Homo sapiens: one gene and its partners. The main gene of each other region encodes a partner of the protein of the gene in region 2 in a complex. Each region holds a gene or a part of one and is shown on either strand. Other genes may lie near its edges. A codon is read from its position in the direction of its gene.

Region 1 (6,978 bases), on a different chromosome or scaffold from region 2:
TCTTTTTTAAGCTTTGCCATAAAAAAGCTTTTTATTTTTATGTACTGAAATTTTTCAGATTTTTCCTTGGAACTTCTGGGTCTTCTGTTATGTTTAAAGCCTTTTCCCACCTCAATGAATTATCACCATATTAGTAATACTATTAAAACAAACTCCTAGGCTTGCATTTTCTGCCTTGGATTTAAATTTGCTAACTCAGCATTATGCTGCTCTGGGTTGAGTTTCGTTTAGTATTTAACATCCCTTAAAACACAGCTTTATGTTCTTCAATATTCCATATATTGTCATAGAATTTTATTTGGATCTCCAAAATGAGTTGCTTTATTTTCTAACCGGTTGAAATCTCAAATTAGTTTGATATCAAATGAAGGTACAGTTGTAGCACCATTTTGTAGGTAGAGGGGAGTAAATACTTCTACCACCACACATAAAACTGGTAATGCTTTTTACTTAGAGATTTCCATTTTTACACATTAATTTTAAAGAAAAAAGTGAGGTTGACAAGTGGTAAGACTTATACACAGTAGTACTGAGAAGTCTACAACTACAAAAAAACTAACAAGGCAGAACGATTAATTTCAACTATCCATTGGCATATTTACACACAAACCTGTGTCTTTTAGTAACATAATTTTTTAGCACCGAAATCAGTTTTTTTCATTCTTATCATCCTTACAAATGTGAAAAATTAGCATAATTACATGACACAGTAAGAAGAGTCGGATGATAGATTTGAAGAGTATTTCGTATTTCTCAAAGTCTGATCCAGAGATTCCAGGGATCAAAATTTTCAAATAAACAACACCAATATTTTGCCGATGATTTCAAAAGACCAAAATATCTAACAAAATATGGTATTAAATGAAGCATTAAAATAGATTTATTGTCTTTAACACCCTATGAAACAGATAACCTCACTCTCCATCTTTTAAAAGGTAAAAATAAGAAACCAAAGCACTGAGCAGTTGCCTTAAGTCATGTTGTTCTTTGTCAAACACAAACTTCCAAGATTTATTACAAAAGAAACATGCCTAGTACAAGGAAAATATCAGATTGCTTTGTTCAATGTTCTTACACTACAAATTATTTAATTAAAGAAAATACTTCTTTTCCTTGAAGCTGCCTAACCTGAAGCTCAACAGACTACTGCATTAAAGCACCAGGTCCCAAAGGGATTCTCACAGAATCTGCAGTTATCATGCTGTAAGAATATTCAAAGCAGTCACTACACTGTTTCTGGGATGAACATGCAGAATCCTCTCAAACAGAGCCCAGTTTTTAACACAAATTATGGTGGTGGTATACGTTAGCAGTGGCAAGTAGGAAAGGCTGGAATTAGGTAGCAGGTGGGTTACTGAAGCAGCTTGGGCTGAACATCACGTTTACATCTTTAGTTTTAAGATCTAGCATATGATCATTACTACTGCATTCTGTATCTGGATTGCAGCTGTTAGGGAGGAAAGTAAACCATATTTAATGTCAAAAGATTTTTAAGCTCAGGCTCTGGCAACCACTTAGCGGCAGCCTACCAAGAGCAAAACACTTAACCTCTATGACCCTGTTTCCTGGTTTGTAAAATGACAATACCACCACCCACCTCTGGGGGATGTTTGAAGGTTAGGTTAGATAATACCTACCAGTGAAAATGCTTTGCAAAAGGAAAATACCAGATAAATGTAAAATATGGCTATTTATTGCTAAGAACAAAATTCGGCCTTTATTGCCACTCCTCTTTTGAAGGAATAAAGCAACAGATGGCTTGTAATTCAGAAAGGCTTGGTAAAGACCTCACCATCAGTCTGCCCTCAGCAACACTTCAAAAGCACTAGCCTACTTAAGACCGATCACCAGAATTACCTCATCAACAAAATTTGCCAAGTTACAATTACTTAAAAAATTATTTTACGCATAAATGCATCTCCCTCTGATGATGTAAGTGAAGATGGAAAGGAAGAAATGAAATATAAGATACTTTTAACACTCCATCCATACGAAACAAAGACAATGATTTTCAGAAGTCTCTTTGGCAAATGTCTCATCACTTTTTACAGTCACTTTCAATACCTTCTCGTTTATTCATGGAAAATTTTAGGACTCGATTTAAGCATCGCCGCTTTCATGAGAATTTTTGGTAATGGTTTCAAGGTCTGACATTCAAAACCCTGTCTCCTTCGCTTGGATGTCATTTACTGCAGACACTTCACGATCCTGTGGACCCTCGGGTGCAGCAGAAGTGACAACATACAAGTACTCGGCATTTGGTAATAAAGGGAAACTGAGGCCCACGCCTTGGCAGAAGTCCAAGGTCACACACGACGAGACTGGGATAGCAGAGTTGTTTTTCGAAGGCTGTCGCATAGGACGCGGTAAGCCAGTACTCATTTCCCAAGGCAAACGGGCAAAGAGCTGCATGCTCACACATCCTTACTTTCTCCCCACCTCACTCAGGTACAACACTGAATCCTCGCTAGGGGGACTGCTCCGCTGTCAACTCAGACAAGTATCATCTCCTTCCCCCTCCCAACCCGTAAAGACGACCCTTTGAGGGATGAAACTGTAGTTCCCAAAGACACATACTCGACCCATGGCCTCTGCGCGCCTGCCCGCTCCCCGGGGAACGTCTCGGCCCGCATAGCCGTCCCGGGACGTACGGTACCCTGTTCCCTTACCAAAGAGCCGGAGGAAGATCTGGAGCACGATGCAGAACCGGCTTTGGCTGGAATCCGGGTAGGAGTTGAAGATGGCGTCGATGATGTAAAGGCAGGGCACCCGGAGCGCCACTTCGAGCGCCGCCCAGACCTGCTGATGGGCCATCCGCACCTGCTGCTGCGGGGGCCCCACGGCCGCCATGAGCCGCTGCCACACCAGGGCTCGGTGGGCCGGGCAGGGCCGCGCGGGGCAGGGCCCGGGGCCGCGGCCGGGGGCGGGGGCTAAGGCGGGCAACTCCGCCCCTGCCCTCCTTCCTCTCCTGTCTCTCTCACGGCCAGCCCCGCCGCCCGCTCGCGTCCCTCGAGGTGGAGCAGGCGGCGGAGGCAGCGATGGCCGAGAGGGCGGCGGCGGCGGCTCCCCAGGAGGTCTCTGGGTTTCGGTGTTTCCGGCTGGCTAAGGTCTGACTCCTCCTCCCTCCACTGCCTCCCCCGCCCGCGGAGCCACCATCTTGACCTCGCCCGCTGGCCTCTGCCGTTGCTGCTGTGGCTAGGCCCGGAGGCTGCGCCGTCAGTCAAGCGAACCGCAGAGTCCGCGCCCACTGCCTGCGTCATAATCCAGCGTCATAATCCAGCGCTAGAGACGCTCCCCATGTCGTCATCACCCATGGTTGCCATGGTTTCCGCCCACCTCCTCAGCTTACTCTAGCTTCGTGCCACCCCGTGGCGCATGCGCTTTTCGGTAGCCGCGCTTTCCGGCGTTGGAGTTGCAGCTTCACCCTCGCAGATTCGGCTTAGCGAGCGAGTCGGTGCTTCCGCGGATCAAAATTATTAGCCGTTTTATTAGAGCCCATTAAACGTTGCATAAACATGGTTCAGAGCTGCCTGGGAGAAGAAAAGCCAAAGGATGCCACCCTCTCGATTTATCCCACCCTCGGGAGTCTGAAAGCCGACGCCAGGAGAAATCCCGCGAAGGCCGCCCGGGATCCTGGTAGAGGCGACGCTGTGTGCGTTTATGGAGCGCTTGCGGTGCGTGGCACTAGGCTGGGTGTGGTGGGTGCTGCCGAAAAAAGGGTTCCTCCCATCCATTTGCACGTCACCCTTCCCACCTCCTGCCCAGATGGACAGAAGTGAGGACATTCATCGGCCGCATTTTACTAATGGCAAGGAGATAGCGACTGAAGGGCAAGAACCTAGGGTTTCCTGTCTTTGATATTTCTCATCTTTGAGGTAAGTACACCTGGACAGTCCCTTCCTTCCTCCTCAGGGCTCATGCTTTCTTGCCTATCCGTGTAATTAATATGATCTGGCTATCTTTGTCTTTGTTCCGAAACTTCAGCTGCAAATGAAAGTGTAAGTTAGGTCTGAGTCTGCACTATAGACCTAGCTATCCTAGGTTAAAGGGGATAAAATAGGAATCAAGAAGCCTGGCCCGCTTGGGCTCCCAGCTCAAGTGCATTCTGCAATCCAGTTTATATTAGGCCTCCATGTGGGTGGCTATCCTTTATCAAGATCCCCCCCAGGGGGAGGAGGATTATTAGTCACATTATCAAACTCCCCTCCAACCCCTTTCTCTGCTTAGAGGTATGTGTAATGTGTAGTAGAAAGACCGAATCCCCACCCAAAAGTCCTTACTGCTACTCATGTTTTTAACCTTCTGTTCTTTACCCTACTCCCTAATAATGACCGCCATCATTTATCTACTGCTTAATGGATACTAGGCACTGTGCTAAGGGTTTTATGTTTTACTTCAATCTTTTCATCGGCTTTATTTTGATAGTTTGTTTTATAGAGGAGGAAACAGACTTAGGTAAGTTACAAGATGACAAGGTTACTACCTTGTTCAGTTAGTAGTCAGCAGCTAGTATATCCAAAGATAGTACGAGTCAGAACTAGGATTATAAACTCAGGGCTACCTGAAACTCACAACTTCAGGCATCTTTGATTTCTTCTTTTCACCCACAGCCAATTCTTCAACTAAATTGTATCCATTCTGTTTTCACCGTCTCTTGTACTGGTCTCCTTTCTATTGTAACTGTCATCATCCTAACTCAAGATCCTTCTGTAGCTTTCCCCGGTTATTGGAATATCCTTATTACGACTGCCACCTTTTCTAATCCAGTCTGTTTACTACTGCCGGGTTAATTTCCCCAAACTGCATGTCTGGGGAATAACCTTGTGGTTATGACAGAATTCCCAAAGGAAAGCAAACTTGGCAAGGTGCAAAGACTATGAAGACTTAGAACTTAAGAGTTCTATGGAGATCTTCAGAAATATAAATTAGCTACTCAACATATCTGTTATTCTGCCCTGATTGCACTGTAAAGCAAAAGGAGAGAGGCCATTATGGGGAAAAAGATCCAAAAGGACTCATCTAAAACACAAGTTGGGTAGAGGAGATAGGTGAGTACTATTATATTATGTTCATGGAAAATGAGTTCATGGGCTTTCCTCTAATTTTTATTTTAAAAATAAATGTAAATATTAAATAAAATTTTTTAAATGAACAAATGCTTCAGTCTTTATTAATGTTTTAACTGTCCCTGATCTTAATTTGATGTACAAATTTTATTAGTGTAAGAGTTTCTTTGACTAAATTCCATCTTGGGCCGAGAACTTTCAGGAGCGGTGGCAGTCTTTTTTTTTTTTCACACAGCTTCTCCAAGCAGGCTCTCTGCCAAACTTGTCCAACCCACCTTATTTTGTTACTGTTGTTGTTCTGTTTTGTTTTAGGCTGTTAACAGCCTGAAGCCATGGTTTTTAGTTTCTGTTTCTAGTGATAAGCGGAAAAGAGAGATGAGGAGGTATTTACTGACCCAACCAGAAGCGGAAACTAAGAACCCATGACTGTATTATCTCCCTTGGACACCCCTGTGTGAGCTCTCTTTCTCCATCTATAAAATGAAGGTTTGAATGAGGTCCTGGCAACTGTGTTAAAATACTACGTTAAAATTAAATTTATAGTAATGAGGTAATTTATAGGATGCTTAGGAATTTTTAAGATAAAAGATGTTTCCAGCTGGGTGTGGTGGCTTATGCCTGAAATCCCGGCACTTTGGGAGGCCAAGGAGGGTGGATTGCTTGAGCCAGAAGTTCAAGACGAGCCTGTCCAACAAGGCAAAACTATATCTTTACAAAAAAATTGTAAAAATAGCTGGATGTGGGCTGGGCGCGGTGGCTCACACCTGTAATTCCAGCACTTTGAGAGGCCGAGGCGGGCGGATCACAAGGTCAGGAGTTCGAGATCAGCCTGGCCGACATGGTAAAACCCCCATGTCTATTAAATATACAAAAATTAGCCGGGTGTGATGGTGGGCACCTGTAATCCCAACTACTTGGGAGGCTGAGGCAGGAGAATTGCTTAAACCCGAGAGGCGGAGGTTGCAGTGAGCCAGGATGGCGCCACTGCACTGCAGCCTGGGTGACAGAGTGAGACTCTGTCTTGGGGGAAAAAAAAATAGCTGGGCATGGTGGCATAGGCCTGTGGTACCAGCTGCTCAGGAGGCTGAGGTGGGAGGATCACTTGAGCCTGCCTTGAGCCTGGGTAGCAGAGGTTGCAGTGAGCCAAGATCACGCCACTGTACTCTAGCCTGGGTGACAGAGTGAGACCCTGTCTCAAAAAAAAGGTAATGTTTCCAAGAAATAGCTACAATTCACTGAATCTAATCTTTGCTTGATTTCTGCATTGATTTGAATGTTGCACAACTCAGGTGTACATTTATATTGAGTCTGCACAGTGTGGTTCATGAGTGTGTGTGTGTGTGTGTGTGAATACACACACACACAAACTGTATACATAGAATACTCGTGTTTGAAAATAACAATCTGTTATAAATCCTTCAGATTTAACAGCTCAGAAAGCCTTTTAGTAGCTTTCAAAACTTTTACAGGTAGGATGTGTAAAAACTAGTTTGAATTTTCTCTTGACATTTGCATTAATGAAGTCTTTGTTTCCTACAACAGAAACTGATTCTTCTGGGTTATCTTAAGCAAAAAGGGAATTTATTAAGGGGTTATTTTCATTATTCCTCAAGATTTCAAGTCCCAGGAGAGACCACCTATATTAGGCCATTCTTGCATTGCTATAAGTACCTGAGGCTGAGTAATTTATAAGAAAAGAAGTTTAATTGGCTCACGGTTCTACAGGCTGTACAGGAAACCTAGTGCCTGCATCTGCTTCTGGGGAGGCCTCAGGAAGCTTTTGCTCATGGTGGAAGGTGAAGTAGGATCAGGCACTTCACATGGCAAAAACAGGAGCGAGGGGGTGGGGATAGGTGTCACACACTTTTAAACAATCAGATCTCATGAGAACTCACTATGGTGAGGACAACAC
Region 2 (7,107 bases):
GTGCTTGGTCAGCATCTTGGCCCTTGCCTATGCTGTAACCTGGAGTACTGCATTGGTGAGTGGCTCCATGGCCTCCCTTTCATCCACACGCATGCCCCTTGGAGTTCCCGACTGCAGCCCAGGCGTGGAGACAGCCCCTCATCCCTCAGCTGGGCTGGGCCCTGCCCCCTTCAGTCCACACCTCGCAGTACACCGCTGTCTAGGGCCATGTTTCCTTGTCTCCAGTTGTCACCAACTCCCGGGGAGTCTTTACAGAGCACTGCTTTCATCAGGTTGCCCCTTCACCTCAGAGACACTGGGCTTTGCTTTGTCAACTGATTAAAATCCTGACAGCTCAGTCAGGCTTCAGTCTAAGCCTGCTTGTCATCTTCCTCGTAATTTCTGTTATCCCCTGACAGGTTTCCTTGGTGCAGATGTCCAGGCCTTCTGTGCTCTCAGCATCCCTTGCAACTCACATTCCCTCCTGCTCCTCTCCTACCTGTTCTTTTCTAACCTTATGGCTCTACTCAGCTTCTCCTGGGCCATAACTCTGCTGTGGCTGACCCAGCATGTTTTGGGGTGCTCCGCGACATGCCTGTTACTGAGGGTTGCATATGTGAACACTCTTGTCATTTACATCCCTGTTAAGCTCTTGAAAGGTAGATGGCAGATTCTAGTGAGAAAAGTATGTGATATTTAGTGAGGAGACCTTGGTTTGAGTCCTTACACCACCCTGCCTGGAGTGTGAAGCTCTAGGCAGGCACAATGCCTGAGCCTCTCCTTGCTTCTCATCAGGCTGTTGTGAGGGTCAGATGAAGTGAAATGCCTGATTGTTCATTGTTAATATTTCTGCTAATCTTTCAGACACTGTTTGTATGCGTGTGTGGTGTGTGCATACATCTTGATGCTGCAGGGTGAATGTCGTTATTCCTGTTTCACAATGAGGAAATTGAAATCCAGAGATGTCAAAAGTGTTTTCAAGGCCATATGTTTGGAAAGCTGTGATTTAAAATTGGGTCCTTTGATCTTCAAAACCCGCTACTCTGCTGCAAGTGACAAAACCTGAATCAGTAAGACAGGTTACATGCTTTGGGGAGTGTAGAGTCTATAGTGCGGTCAGCAGACATGTTCCATAAAGGGCTAGATAGTAAACATTTAGGCTTTGCGGGCCAGACGGCCTCTGTTGCAGCCATTTGACCCTGCTGTTGTAGAGTGAAAGCAGCCATAGACAATAGTAATGGTAGGGGTGTGGCTGTGCTTCAGTAAAAATTGGAAGTGGAAAAACAGGCACTAACCAGCCTGGGCAACATAGTGAGACCCCATCTCTACAGAAAATAAAGAAGTTAGCCAGGTGTGGCACTTCGGGAGGCCAAAATGGGAGGATCACTTGAGCCCAGGAGTTCGAGACCAGCCTGGCAACATAGTGATACCCTGTCCCTACAAAACATTTTTGAAAATTAGGCGTGGTGGTGGTGCACACACCTCTAGTCTCAGCTACTTGGTGGGTGGGGGTGCTGAGGTGGGAGGATCTCTTGAGCCTGGGAGATTGAGGTTTCAGTGAGCCATGATTGGGCAATAGAGCAAGACCCTGTCTCAAAAAGAAAAACAGGCATGGGCCCTGATTTGGCCTACAGGCCATCGTTTGCCTACACCTGGTCCCACAGTGCTTTGCCCATAGTAGATGTGTTATTGAGCAAAAGAGGCTCGCTGCCCAATGTGCTAGAAGCCAATACTGTGACACCAGGATTTGGGGAAAAGAAAAGCTTTATATTGAAGGTTGACTCCCTAGGAGACCGGAGTCCAGCTCAAATCTGTCTCCCTGTGCTGGCTTTAAGGCAGTAATTTTATTAGGAAAGGTTTAGAGGGTGGATACTAGGATTAGCAGATGATTGATGGAAGGAAGGGTGATTTCTGGGAAGTCTTTGAGCATGCCCAGTTATCTCTTGATGCCACCTCACAGGTCCCATGTGCAAATTCCGGGGGGAGTTAGTATGAAACATGGCAGTGGAAATTCAGGCTGTGACATCGGCAAGCTCATTCTGCACAACTCCAGTCGGCCATCTTGGTTCCAGCTTATTTCAGCCAGTTCTTTTATCTCATAAGCGGAGGGAGTTTCTGGGTTTCAGCAAATTGTTTCTTTTCTTATCTGCCATCCTGCAAACTCAAGAACTTGTATTAGTCATTGGTTTCTTTAACTCTGTGGGGCACGGTTTCCAATGCCCATTAAATCCCTTGAATTGGACCGTCTTTCTTCTTCCTGTGCTCAGCTGCCCTTTCTGCCCTCCCTCATTTCTTCTGCAGTATGTGGGTGCCCCGGTGGCTTATGTCCAGCAGATATTTGTGAAGTCCTCAGTGTTTCCCTGGCACAAGAACCTCCTGGCAGTAGATGTATTTCGTTCACCTTTGTCCCGGGCATTCCAACTGGTGGAGGAGATCCGGAACCACGTGCTGAGAGACAGGTACCCCTCTCAGGGACCCTGGCCTCCCTGAATCCCATTCTGTACTGAAGGGAGAGTTACAGTCCTCAGTGTAACTGCAGTGAGCCAGTCAGCTCTGCAGAGATAGAACAAGCAAGAAGGATGGAGGGTGAGCTAGCCTTGAATTTCTCAGCATCCTTGTGGGTCTACGGTGGCTGCATTCCGCTTGGACCTATGCAGATGGCACACACATAGCCTTGAGTCTCATCCTTACATCTCAGATGGAGTCAGTGTCCACTGTGCTAACTCATGACCCACATGGCTTCCTGCCTGTGGGTTATGGTGTGAATGTAATGGTGGTGTCTCTGCCGACGAGAAGCAAGCTCTACCTGGGGGTACCTTCTGAAGCCCCAGCCCAAGTCGTGCTCCCCTGCCTATCAGTGGGTCCCTGGGTTATGCTGGCTTGGCATACAATGTGTGTAATTGGCAAGCTGCATCACTGCCAGGTTTTAGTTAGCTAGTGGCGTTGACAGATATTTTGGTGAACTAAATGAAGCCCCTAATTTACCCCGGTCCCTGCTCATCCACTGAACTGGCCAGGGTGTTTTAGTGGGTGGGGTTGTGCATGCTCTTATAGTACACTTGCCCGTCCTCAGAGCTGATGGGCTTTTGGGCTTCAGATGCACTTTGAAAGTCAGACAGCCACATGTTTAGGTTATTGGCCACCTGGAAGTACTTCCCCCTGCTGCCCTAGTGGTCAGGCTCTTTGGCGATACCAGAGAGCAAATATGGGGCATTGAAGAACAGACAGAGGATGTCCCCTAAGTACAGCAGGTCTGCCCTGTGGTGGCAGACACAGCAGGTGCCTTGTCCTGTCTCCTGTGCAGCTCTGGGATCAGGAGCTTGGAGGAGTTGTGTCTGCAAGTGACCGACCTGCTGCCAGGCCTTAGGAAGCTCAGGAACCTACTCCCTGAGCATGGATGCCTGCTGCTGTCCCCTGGGAACTTCTGGCAGAATGACTGGGAACGCTTCCATGCTGATCCTGACATCATTGGGACCATCCACCAGCACGAGCCTAAAACCCTGCAGACTTCAGCCACACTCAAAGGTAGCCCCAGTACAAGTTCCCTTCAGACCTGTAAAGGTGCCCATTGGTCACCGTCTTTTTGATGTGTGCTTAGGCAGATCAGGGTTTACCCTTTGTTTCCCAGGGTGGGGGTGAGAAAGGGGTCCTTGGTGGCTCTGCAGTAGCTGTCATTTCTGTGTCAGTACCTGCTGGTTTCTGCTTGCAGACTTGTTATTTGGTGTTCCTGGGAAGTACAGCGGGGTGAGCCTCTACACCAGGAAGAGGATGGTCTCCTACACCATCACCCTGGTCTTCCAGCACTACCATGCCAAGTAAGATTGACAGTACCCTGGGCTCTTGACTGGTCTGCTGGGTGACATGAGGCTTTGAGTAGTCCCTCTTCTGGTTAGAGTGTTCTGAATGCCCCCTGGAAACTTGGGAGAGTTTCCAGGCCTCCTGTTGAATGTTTACATCCCTCAGACTAGATGATGCTGTCTACCACATTTTAATGGGGATGACCTGACAGCTGGTTAAGCATAGGGGACTAAGGTAGGGCTGGCGGTCTCAGTGTCCTGGTGCCTCCTCTGGTCTCTCTTGAGCCTAGGGCAGGCATCCCCAGCTGGTTACTACTGAGCACCCTATATGGCCTGTGTCCTTCCCAGTGGGGCACTGCAGGCAGCTCCCCAATTGGCAAGGGCACTCGAGGTGCTTCTGATCGGCTCTCCTAGGCCTCTGGCAATCAAGAGTGTTGGAGGCCGGGCGCGGTGGCTCACGCCTGTAATCCCAGACTTTGGGAGGCCGAGGCAGGCGGATCATGAGGTCAGGAGATCGAGACCATCCTGGCTAACACGGTGAAACCCCGTCTCTACTAAAAATACAAAAAATTAGCCGGGCGTGGTGGTGGGCACCTGTAGTCCCAGCTACTCGGGAGGCTGAGGCAGGAGGATGGTGTGAACCCAGGAGGCGGAGCTTGCAGTGAGCCCAGATGGCGCCACTGCACTCCAGCCTGGGCGACAGCGAGACTCTTGTCTCAAAAAATAAAAAATAAAATAAATAAATAAATAAAAAAGAGAGTGTTGGAGTAGGTCCGGAAAGGGAGACAAAGAAAGGAGCAGGGGGAGCTCCTGAGAAAACTTTGTCCCCTTTGTGATTTTCCCAGTGCCCCTGGAGACTATAGAGAAGCTCAGGCACCATAGAGAAGTTCCCTTTCAACACAGGGGCAGGAGGGAGGTCCTGATGGACCCTCTGTCCGGGGATTGTCTTTGTCCCCAGAACCAAGAGCAACACTTCCATTTACCCCCACCCTGCTCCTTGACCAGGTTCCTGGGCAGCCTGCGTGCCCGCCTGATGCTTCTGCACCCCAGCCCCAACTGCAGCCTTCGGGCGGAGAGCCTGGTCCACGTGCACTTCAAGGAGGAGATTGGTGTCGCTGAGCTCATCCCCCTTGTGACCACCTACATCATCTTGTTTGCCTACATCTACTTCTCCACGCGTAGGTTCATGGCAGGGAGGCTGAGGGCTTTCTCCAAGCTAAACGGGCATTTCCATGTCACCTGCTTCCCTGGCTCTGGAGGTGGCTTGGGGTAGAGAGATAGAACACACCTGGTGGTCATCAGAGCTAGGGCTTTGTCCCCCAGCAGGGTCTTAGGAGCTTGGGTGGGGCCGGGGCTCTTCCCACTTTCAGCCCCTTCCTGGGTTAGGGTTCCTAAAAGGTGTACTGTGTCCATGACACTGGGAAGTGCTTGTGCCTGTCCCTTTCCTTTGGTGAAACCAGGAGTTTTCCCTTCCTCGACTGTCAGGGCAACCTACTCCCGGGAGCCCCAGTGGGCCGGGGGCTGGGGGAGGGGCCGCCCTGATACGCCCTCTCTGCCCTCCAGGGAAGATCGACATGGTCAAGTCCAAGTGGGGGCTGGCCCTGGCTGCCGTGGTCACAGTGCTCAGCTCGCTGCTCATGTCTGTGGGACTCTGCACACTCTTCGGCCTGACGCCCACCCTCAATGGCGGGTAGGTCCCTAGCAGGCTCCACTGGGCCACAGGGTGGGCTCAGGCCAGAGAGCCTTGCACTTCTGGGTTCTTGGCCTTCCCTGGACTTTGCTGTGACCTCACGTCTTCACATTGTTGTTTTTGACATTTAAGAGGTACATTTTCTTCCTCTTCTTTGTCTGGCTTGTATTCATACTTGTGTTTGTATATAGCATATCTAGCTATAGTGAGTGTCCATATGTACAAAAGTGCATATTTGTGGGCTGGGTGTGTATATAAGGGGTGTGTGTTGGTATGTTTGTGTATACATGAGTATGTATTGCATGTGTGTAGTCGGATTTGTGTGTCTGTGTTTATGTATTCTATATACACACACCACACACACACTGCAGCTTGATGGCTTAAGCCACTGGAGGTGTGAGATAGAGAAGAGAACATTTTTTTTTTCATGATTAGAACATTTAAATGCCTAATGAAATAGGTCATTTTAGAGGAAGCTCTTTGGAAGATATGAGCACACTGTAATTTGTCGCCTTTTTCACTGATGTTTACTTTCCCCTTGCCACTCCTCTCTGAACCTTAGTCTGGAAGCCCTTCCCTCGGCTTGTCCTCAGGCTTTGATCTTGGCTCTGGCTAGGCCCGCCTGCCTGTCTATTAATGGTTATTAATGGATTATGGATTGGCCTGTCCACCACTTTGGCCCATCAGGCTGGTCGTATGAAAAGCGACGTCGTATTTTGTTTCTGGTAGTTTCGTTGCTCTTAGATACCTGCTCCCTTTCCTGAGCTTGACACTGTTAAACACCACCCTCCCCCATACCGTCTGCCATACCCTTCACAGGGCCCTCCCTTCCTTCGGCTCCAAAGCAGAGGTCCTGCAAGGTATAACTTGGCTGGCGTTCCTCGCACATAGACTTTCTTAGGGTTTGCTGCGGGGAGTGTGGGACAGTGGGCTCAGATAGCTGGTAGAGCTTTGTGTAGGAACAGTCGTTCTTCTCCACACACAGCTTCTCAACAAAGGTGAGTGGGCCTTCAGGATGGTTTCATCTCCTTGCATTTAGCTGTGATGGGTCCACCCAGAGTTACTGGTGTGGGTCTTGGCAGCAGTCATTGTCTTTAGCCAGCAGTCTTCTCCTGGGAAGGGCCAGCAGAAGTGTGGTCTAGCAGTGGCGCTGCACAGCTCTCCCTGAGGGGCCTCTTCCAGCCCTCCTGTGCTGGATGGCTAGAGACAGGATGGCTGCTGGCCCCTCTGCAAGGCTCTGGAGCCTGCCTGAAAGCTGAGTGCTGTGTAGATGCAGGTCTTGTTGGGTGAGGTGGACAAGGGAGGGTTTCTGCCCAGCACCTGTGGGAGTCACTCAGCAGCCCCCATGACAGGCTGGAAACCCCACAGCCTTCCTGAGGGCCCCAGTCTGTTGGGAACCACCACAACACTGTCCTCACCTTCTCCTTCTCTGTCCCCAGCGAGATTTTCCCCTACCTTGTGGTGGTTATTGGGTTAGAGAATGTGTTGGTGCTCACCAAGTCTGTGGTCTCAACCCCGGTAGACCTGGAGGTGAAGCTGCGGATCGCCCAAGGTAACGCAGTGGGAGAGTTGGGCAGAGGGCTGCAGGAGGGGCTGGAATGGGGCCTGTTCCTCTTGCTGTTAACGCTCTGTGAGCAAACA
Region 3 (7,297 bases), on a different chromosome or scaffold from region 2:
AAGTACTCAAAAAAGTCCATGATCCAAACAAAGTAAAGAATCAGTAATCTAACAATTCTCTCACTCTATTAGCAAGGCCAATGACATGCAAAGTAGTCAACTGGATTAACAAGATTAAGACAGTACCATCAGTTCTTATTACCACAAACGTGTATAGTGAATGCCAGAAAATGACCAGACTCATCAAAGGGATAGAGGCGTCCACAAAACCATTTCACCCCCTACCATGCAACAATGAAATTCCTTTAAAAGCATGTTTATAATATCAGTTGCACACTAGAGGAGTCAGAGGAGTGGGTTATTTTCAAGGGAAAGTAAGCTCCCTTAGTTTACTTTGAAGTTTGTTTTTCTGATTTTGTACTGATACCATTTTCTTAAAACAAAGTGGATCTATATCTTTAAATATTAGTCTTACATTAATGATAAACTTGATGCTCCAAAATTTTTTTTAAAAATCTATATTTGAAAAATTTAGATTACTTGACAAATAATTTGCTGACCAGGGAAAAAGTCTCTGGTATAAAGATACTGTTTAAAGGACAATATGTCAATAGATTCTCGAAAACAATCTTGGTAAATAGGCAGGTGTTGTTAGTTTCCATTTTACAAAATAAAATAGGTTAAGTAACTTTCCAAGATCACAGAACTGTTACCAGGTAGCACCAGGACTAGGCTCACCCACTCTGACCCCATGTCCGGAGTTCTTCCTGCTTCACCACACTGCTTCCATTCACAAACATGGTACAAAACAATTTAAGTGCCACACAAGAAACCGTTTTTAAAATCATGTTGGTAAACTACTATTAATACCAAAATAATGTTTTCAACAATTCACAAAGAAAAACTTTCCACCAGACTTGAAAAATTCTACGCTGAGCCCTGGCCTAAAATTTCTGGAAAGTACAATACTAAACAAAAAGAAAAAAAGTTGAAATAATTTGCATAGATCAATGATGAATCATCAATACTGGAAAAACATTATTCCAGGTGTATGGCTGCCTATTAATGGATTGATATTATTACTTTCAGGTTAAAAAAGAGTTATAAGTGATTATGAGCTTCGTGAATAAAAATCAAGGTTCATGTTGGCCACTGAAACAACTTAGAGGCAACAAGCATTTGAAAACAAACACACATACAAAATCTTCTAGTAACCTTAAGAACCTGTTGCATTGTAACAACTGCAACACCCCCTAAAACCAAATGACAAGACCATTCCTCTTCCAATGATTAGCCGTAAAAGAAGTATTTTTACTCCCTCAGATAACCCTGTTTCTTCAGGTGCTTAGGTCACGTAAGCTACTAAATAATAAAGTTAAATTACTACCTCACATATTTTTCATCATATGCTCTCTTAATTAGAATAGCATTCTTGAAATAGAATAAGCACTAACATTAGAAAAAAACAGACTTAAATCAATGCAACAGTTTAATGCTCCCTAAATAAAAACACATCTACATGTATCATGGGCTAGAGACGTTAAAAATTTCTAGGAAGAAAAGCAATATTTGCCTTATAAACACTGCAACTCTTTCCTCTCAACATTAAAACCCAAACATAGAAACCAGTAAGTTAGCTGCATTTACAGCCCCTTACAGGTTTTAAATGTCACATCTCAGTGCCTAAAAAAGTTACTCCATCGTTTCGAGATAAGTTTCTGAGAACAAAGAAAACTCTTTAAACTACTGAACTGCATTTTATTCTTTCCTTTTCCGTGTGACCATCTGCAAAAGCAACAGTTGTCAGTTAAACAGAATCAACCTCTTTCCCGAGTGGACATGATTCACAGCTTGGTCACTGTACAGCAGATGTGAACTGAGAACTACGACATAACACAATGACAAAACACAGTACTGAGCACAAAGTACAGGGAAAGAATGAAAGACAGAAAACAGGAAGAGCACACGTCTGATTTTTGTTTTCTTTGGGGCCCCCATTAGTAGCATTCCCTTCATCCATCTTCATTCAGTGGTTCACTATCAGGGCCAAACCCAAAAGTTACAAAACACCATCTAGCTACTGTCTGGCTGCTTTTATTTTTTCTGCACCAGGACGGGAGCACGCATTCCCCTGCAGTCCTCAGCTCCACCGCAATACTGATACCAAACAGTTTCAGTGGCCCAGCTGCCAAGCCTAACCATTCCTTTTTAAAGCATTTCTTCATCAATCCTACAAAACAGCAAGTTCTTCATGGTATATTTTCCTAGAGCATCTAGCTAATATCATACTTTAACAACTTTTTCCAACGTTAACTGGACATGGGTCATTATCACTTAAGTGTTAGCGCCATTGCCCGCGCCCACTCCCATAATCCACACTGCTTTCCTTCTCCATATTGCCAATCCCCACTAAGCAACCCTAAAATCTAGTAATTATCATCAAATCCACTTCTAGGCCCTGGCAAGAATTATTTGGCTTTACCGAAACACCTATTCCATAGGTAACCAATTCCAGTCAAAAATGCCAGAGTATTACTCCTCAACCCAATGCCCTATCTCCTTAGTGGATTATAAACTTACTACGACAACCTGTCTTCTTTGGATCCAATCCCCGCCCAAGTCTGAGTCTTCTCTCCCAGGCTACAAGCCCCCAAGTCCTGGCAGCTCTATGCTTGACAGCTCGCTGACCTCCACCTCATCAGACCATTGGGTCGCCCTTCTCGCCGTCCTCCAGCCTTCTTCCCGCTCAGACACTCATCCACTGTCCGGGGAGCCTCGACCCCTCCTATACCCCCTCCCCGATCCCGCAGTCCCCTTCTGGACCTTGCGGACCCCTCTCAGGTAAGCGGAGCCCCTTGCCCTGCAGGCCCATCAGTGGTCCTGGCTCCCCGCACCTGCCACCAGGGTTCCCAGGCTGCAAAAACACAAGTAGTTCTTCTTCCCAAGGGCCACCCTCCTCCTCAGGCCGCTTTCCTCAGCACCACGTCACCCGCGCTTCGCCGGGAGACCCCCAACTCACCCCCGCCTCCGCCATCTTCTGGGACCAGCCCCCGTACCCCCTACCGCCTCTTCCTCCTCCACTCCCACAACTCCGCCCGAGCTCCACTGCGCCTGTGCGGCCAACGAGGCCGCGCGCAGGCGATCGGGGCAGAAGAGCTTCCGGTTCCTGCTGTCAATAAGACGTGGACCTGCGAGCCGGGGCAAAAGGGCTTCCGGTCTGCGGGAAACTGGAGGCTAGCGGTGGGCGTGGACCGTCGAGGTGACTGGCGGTTGTCGGATCTGCTGTTGTTTGCTGACCAGGCAGCCGTAGGTAATGACGGATGCCCAGACCCTGTGGGCGGAGTAAAGGAATCATGCACTGATACACGCACACTCACCGAGGGGCGCGTCCGTCTGCGTGCCCCTCATCTCGTAGCCGAAAGGAGCGCGTTCCGGGGCAGGCCTCCGGGTACTTCCCGCAGAGGACCGGGCTTTATACTCTTTGCTCCTTTTCCTCCCCTAGTAAGTCATAACTTATTTTGGGAGAAGGGCATAGTTATTTGTCTCTCGTCTCCATGCTACAGCACTTTATGTGCTTTTCATTCAAAATCGTTCCTCGAGGACGACCAAGTAATGTGATTTGGGGGACAGTTTTCATAGGAAGGGCTTTATAAGTTTACACCAACATAAAGAAAACTTAAAAACCTTATAACCGCTTATTTTTCAGAAGTATTATTTTTCATTTAATCTAAAACCATACTTTTAGAACATGAAACCAAGCCAAACAGATCTTTGCAGATTGTGCAAGCGAACTTTTTTTTTTGAATGAAAGTGGTGCCATCAATGCAAAAGCAAGCCCATATAAGTGCCGAAAGGTACTCGTCATAAGGAGGAGTTGCTTCCCTATTCTGAATTTTTATTTATTTTTATTTATTTATTTATTTGAGACGGAGTCTCTCTCTGTCACCCAGGCTGGAGTGCACTGGCATGATCTCGGCTCACTGCAACCTCTGCCTCCCGGGTTCAAGTGATTCTTCTGCCTCAGCCTCCCCAGTAGCTGGGACTACAGGTACATGCCACCATGTCTGCCTACTTTTTGTATTTTTAGTAGAGATGGAGTTTCATCATATTGGCCAGGCTGGTCTCAAACTCCTGACCTCGTGATTCGCCCGCCTCATCCTCCCAAAGTGCTGGGATTACAGGCGTGAGCTGCCCCCTGAATTTGTTTTTTTTAAGCAACTCTTTTTAAAAAGAGAGAAAAAATAATCTCTCTTGAGTGTATTAGTTATTGAGCTATTCCATTTGGAGGTGGCTTAACCCAAAACGTGTATGGATGTGGTAAGATTACAATGGACTTGAATGTTCTAGATGAAATCTGGGCCGAGAGTAATTGCATAATAGTTTTCCAAAGGACTGTCAGATGGTAAACTCCTTTCATTTACTTTGAACTGATAAACGATAAGATGGATTTTTGTTTTTTGACCTTTTTATCTACATTTACTTCTGAAAATTGAAAAAGAATCTGAATTCCAACAAAATGTTTCTAGGCAAGTATTTGCATGATGCTTCTCTAACATTTCCTATATCTTAGTGTTTTCTCTAATGTTTTCTGTAGCTTTCAAATTTCACTCCTGTAAGTTTTTACACTACCAGTAAGAAAGATCTGGGCCAATTATACAGAATGGACGATGATTTTTAAAAGAATAGAGAAAGCATTCAGAAAAGAGACAATAATTTGAAAATGTTCTGACATCATGTATTTCCTTAAAGCAATACAAGTCCTGTATGTCCAGTTCATGTCTACTCCAACCGAGCTTTTTTCAGACACTTAGAAATTGCCTTCAAGAAAATCCTTATGGAACATTGTAACCTAGAGGGGCATTTATTTTCGTTTAAATATGTATTAATTGCAAGTAGTGACAGAACCTAAAAAGCAAAAACCATATAGCACCAGTTCCAAGGTTCCTATATCTAATGCAGTTACTCCTACTGCAGTACAAGGAGGAATATAAAATCCCTAGGAGAAATACAAAAGGCCATTGTCTTCTTTGACCAGATTTGAGGAAAGTTTTCATGGAAGATGTGGTCTTTCAGTGGGCGTTGAGGGTAAATATGCAGATATGGTTAGCCTGTGCATTCTGGTGGAAGCTCAGAGTTGGAAAAACATGAAACAGATTGCAGAGTCTGGCATGTACAAAGAGGTATGGTGAGACATGTGAGTTCTAAACATCAGGCTCATGAATTTGGACTAAATTTTTGTTATGGAAACATGGAAATCCTAAATTAATTGATGCCAGAATATAAATTGGTTAAGAACATCAAGAAATCATAACAACTGAGTTATTTTGAAGTTGGTGTAATGTGGTCAATGGAACGCTGGTGAATGATCCTTGAAACCTGGATTGTATTTTAGCACTAAGACAGTATGCGTGTAATCACTTGCAATAAATTCATTTTTTTAGGCTTTCTTCTTTTCATCTGTAAAATGAGAGATTGGTTTAGATGATTTCTGAGGTCTTTTTTATAGGTAGAAGTATCAACAATTTGATAATTCTTGACCTCAAGAAAGGTTTTTTCCATTAGCTTTATATGTTGTTTGGTCTCCCAACCAAGAAGATCAAAGATAAGTTAGAAAACAAAAAGCCCTTTACTTAGCTAATACAAACACCCACAAAAGTTTATTGACTTTGTTGGAGTGAGATATTGTAGGAGTCACATTAATTATTGCCTACAGGTTGATGACTAAGCCATTCAGTAAGCCTCTAAGAACCTTGGACTTGGAAACATTACCCAAATTAAAAACATCCAAGATAATTTTTTTACTATTGCAATTTTCCTATTCAGTAGCTAGAACCCCACACACTACAGACCATTCTACTTTTTTGGTTTTGGTTTTTGTTACGGTGTTTTGATGTGAAATATGTTTGAGGGACATAGAAAGTCAAGGAATTTTGCTTTTTTGAGAGATCAGAATGGATTATTTACTAAGCCAGCTATCACCTGAGCACCTGGCAGGTACCAGACACTTGGCACTGGACTTTAGGAGGAAATCAATACAGACAAGCCACATTCCTTTGTGAAGCTAGAGTCCTGTGGGGGAAACACAGTAAATGGTGGAATTCATATGTAATTACAAACTGAGACAAGTGCCATGAAGATGGAACATCTCCATATTGTGATGGAGAATAAAGGGGAATACCTGGAGACCATGCGTGAGCTGAAGATTGAGAGGGATCTGCTAAGAGCAGGATGAAGAACAGGTGTGAGGGCACAAAAGCTGAAAAACTTGGTGCATTCTGGGAATTGAAAGAAAGGCAGAGCTGGGGGTAGCAATTGAAAAGAAAATTGCAAATTGAAGTTGTATTTTAACATCATGATTGATGGTAATCACTTTCTGTGTGCCAGGCACTGTGCTAAGTTAAATCTCATTTCACATGCTCAAAACCCATTTGAAATAGATACCAAATAGCAGATGAGAAATTAAGGCTAAAAGCAGTGATTCTTAACTTTGGCTGCATATTAGGATCACCCATAGATTTATTAAAAGTTCTAGTGCCCGAGCCCCACCTGAGCGTTGAGAATCACTGACTTAGTGTTAATCAGTCCAAGGTCACTTCATAGCTAAGTGGCAGAGAAGGCAGAAATTGAACCTAGATCTATTGGATTCTAAACCCTATGCTCTTAGTCACTCACTAGTGCCCTGTCAACATTCACAAGCACGTAGTAAGCAGCAGTTACATGTGGGAACTCTGTTAAACACTGAGACACAACAATGAATAAGACAGATCTCTTGCCATCAATAAATTCACAGCCTGGAAATGCAGAAGTTAGGTCAGCCCACCTCTACAGAAGCAAGTCAACTGAGAACTCTCAATGAGATCAGATATATTTTTCCTATTTTAAGCTAGATTGATGTAGGCAACTGATGACAGGGAATCTACGTGGGCAGCTAGTGCGATTGTCTGCTGAGAGGTGGTGCAAACTTAACAAAGGCAATGGCAGAGGATACAAAGAATCATCAGGACTTGATAACTGCTAATGTTAGGAGTGAAGAAAAGAAGGTGGAAGTTGATTTCAAAGTTTTGAGCCTGAGAGACTGAGTGAAAGTAACATCATTGATCTAGAACAAGAGTACAAGAATTGAATTTCAGGTTGAGTGAGTTTGAAATACTTGTTGAACATTCGGGTAAAAATGTCCAGTAGAGCAGTGGAAATGTGCATCTGGAGTTTGAATCCCCAAATTGGTCTAGAAATGAAGATCTGGAATTATTGACTTAATAGGAGGTAGTTGAAAACATGCCTTGCATAAAGCGTATGCTGTGTTTGGAATTTTTTAAAAGACAATAGAGATACGAGAAAGAAAAGAAAAACCCTGACA

What was found.
Region 1: SCAP (region 2) and RNF139 share a complex: the UniProt entries of both Homo sapiens proteins name them as parts of the SCAP-SREBP complex.
Region 3: the proteins of SCAP (region 2) and INSIG2 are in contact, whole or in part, in a cryo-EM structure (PDB 7ETW), measured with the Homo sapiens proteins. Residues at the interface, in NP_036367.2 of Homo sapiens: Pro200 (codon at 3,471), Ser206 (codon at 3,489), Val282 (codon at 4,888), Ala283 (codon at 4,891), Glu284 (codon at 4,894), Ile286 (codon at 4,900), Pro287 (codon at 4,903), Thr290 (codon at 4,912), Ile294 (codon at 4,924), Ala297 (codon at 4,933), Tyr298 (codon at 4,936), Phe301 (codon at 4,945), Lys305 (codon at 5,342), Tyr351 (codon at 6,919), Val354 (codon at 6,928), Val355 (codon at 6,931), Glu359 (codon at 6,943), Thr409, Leu410, Val411, Ser638, Tyr639; in NP_001308258.1 of Homo sapiens: Phe41, Val45, Leu48, Leu49, Ile51, Val55, Leu57, Phe58, Pro59, Val62, Ser65, Ile66, Glu104, Trp105, Ser106, Met109, Arg110, Val112, Ala113, Val114, Val116, Gly117, His120, Gln132.

Annotation. Positions count from the first base shown.
Region 1 is NC_000008.11:124,470,982-124,477,959, reverse strand, and holds the start of RNF139 (E3 ubiquitin-protein ligase RNF139), read right to left. Parts: upstream 3,081-6,978; 5' UTR 2,851-3,080; coding exon 2,670-2,850; intron 1-2,669. UniProt on the Homo sapiens protein: E3-ubiquitin ligase; acts as a negative regulator of cell proliferation through mechanisms involving G2/M arrest and cell death.
Region 2 is NC_000003.12:47,423,844-47,430,950, reverse strand, and holds part of SCAP (sterol regulatory element-binding protein cleavage-activating protein), read left to right. Parts: intron 1-2,280; coding exon 2,281-2,438; intron 2,439-3,283; coding exon 3,284-3,504; intron 3,505-3,688; coding exon 3,689-3,794; intron 3,795-4,781; coding exon 4,782-4,954; intron 4,955-5,339; coding exon 5,340-5,466; intron 5,467-6,905; coding exon 6,906-7,018; intron 7,019-7,107. UniProt on the Homo sapiens protein: Escort protein required for cholesterol as well as lipid homeostasis.
Region 3 is NC_000002.12:118,084,204-118,091,500, reverse strand, and holds the start of INSIG2 (insulin-induced gene 2 protein), read right to left. Parts: upstream 3,031-7,297; 5' UTR 2,960-3,030; exon of another isoform or gene 2,521-2,959; intron 1-2,520. UniProt on the Homo sapiens protein: Oxysterol-binding protein that mediates feedback control of cholesterol synthesis by controlling both endoplasmic reticulum to Golgi transport of SCAP and degradation of HMGCR.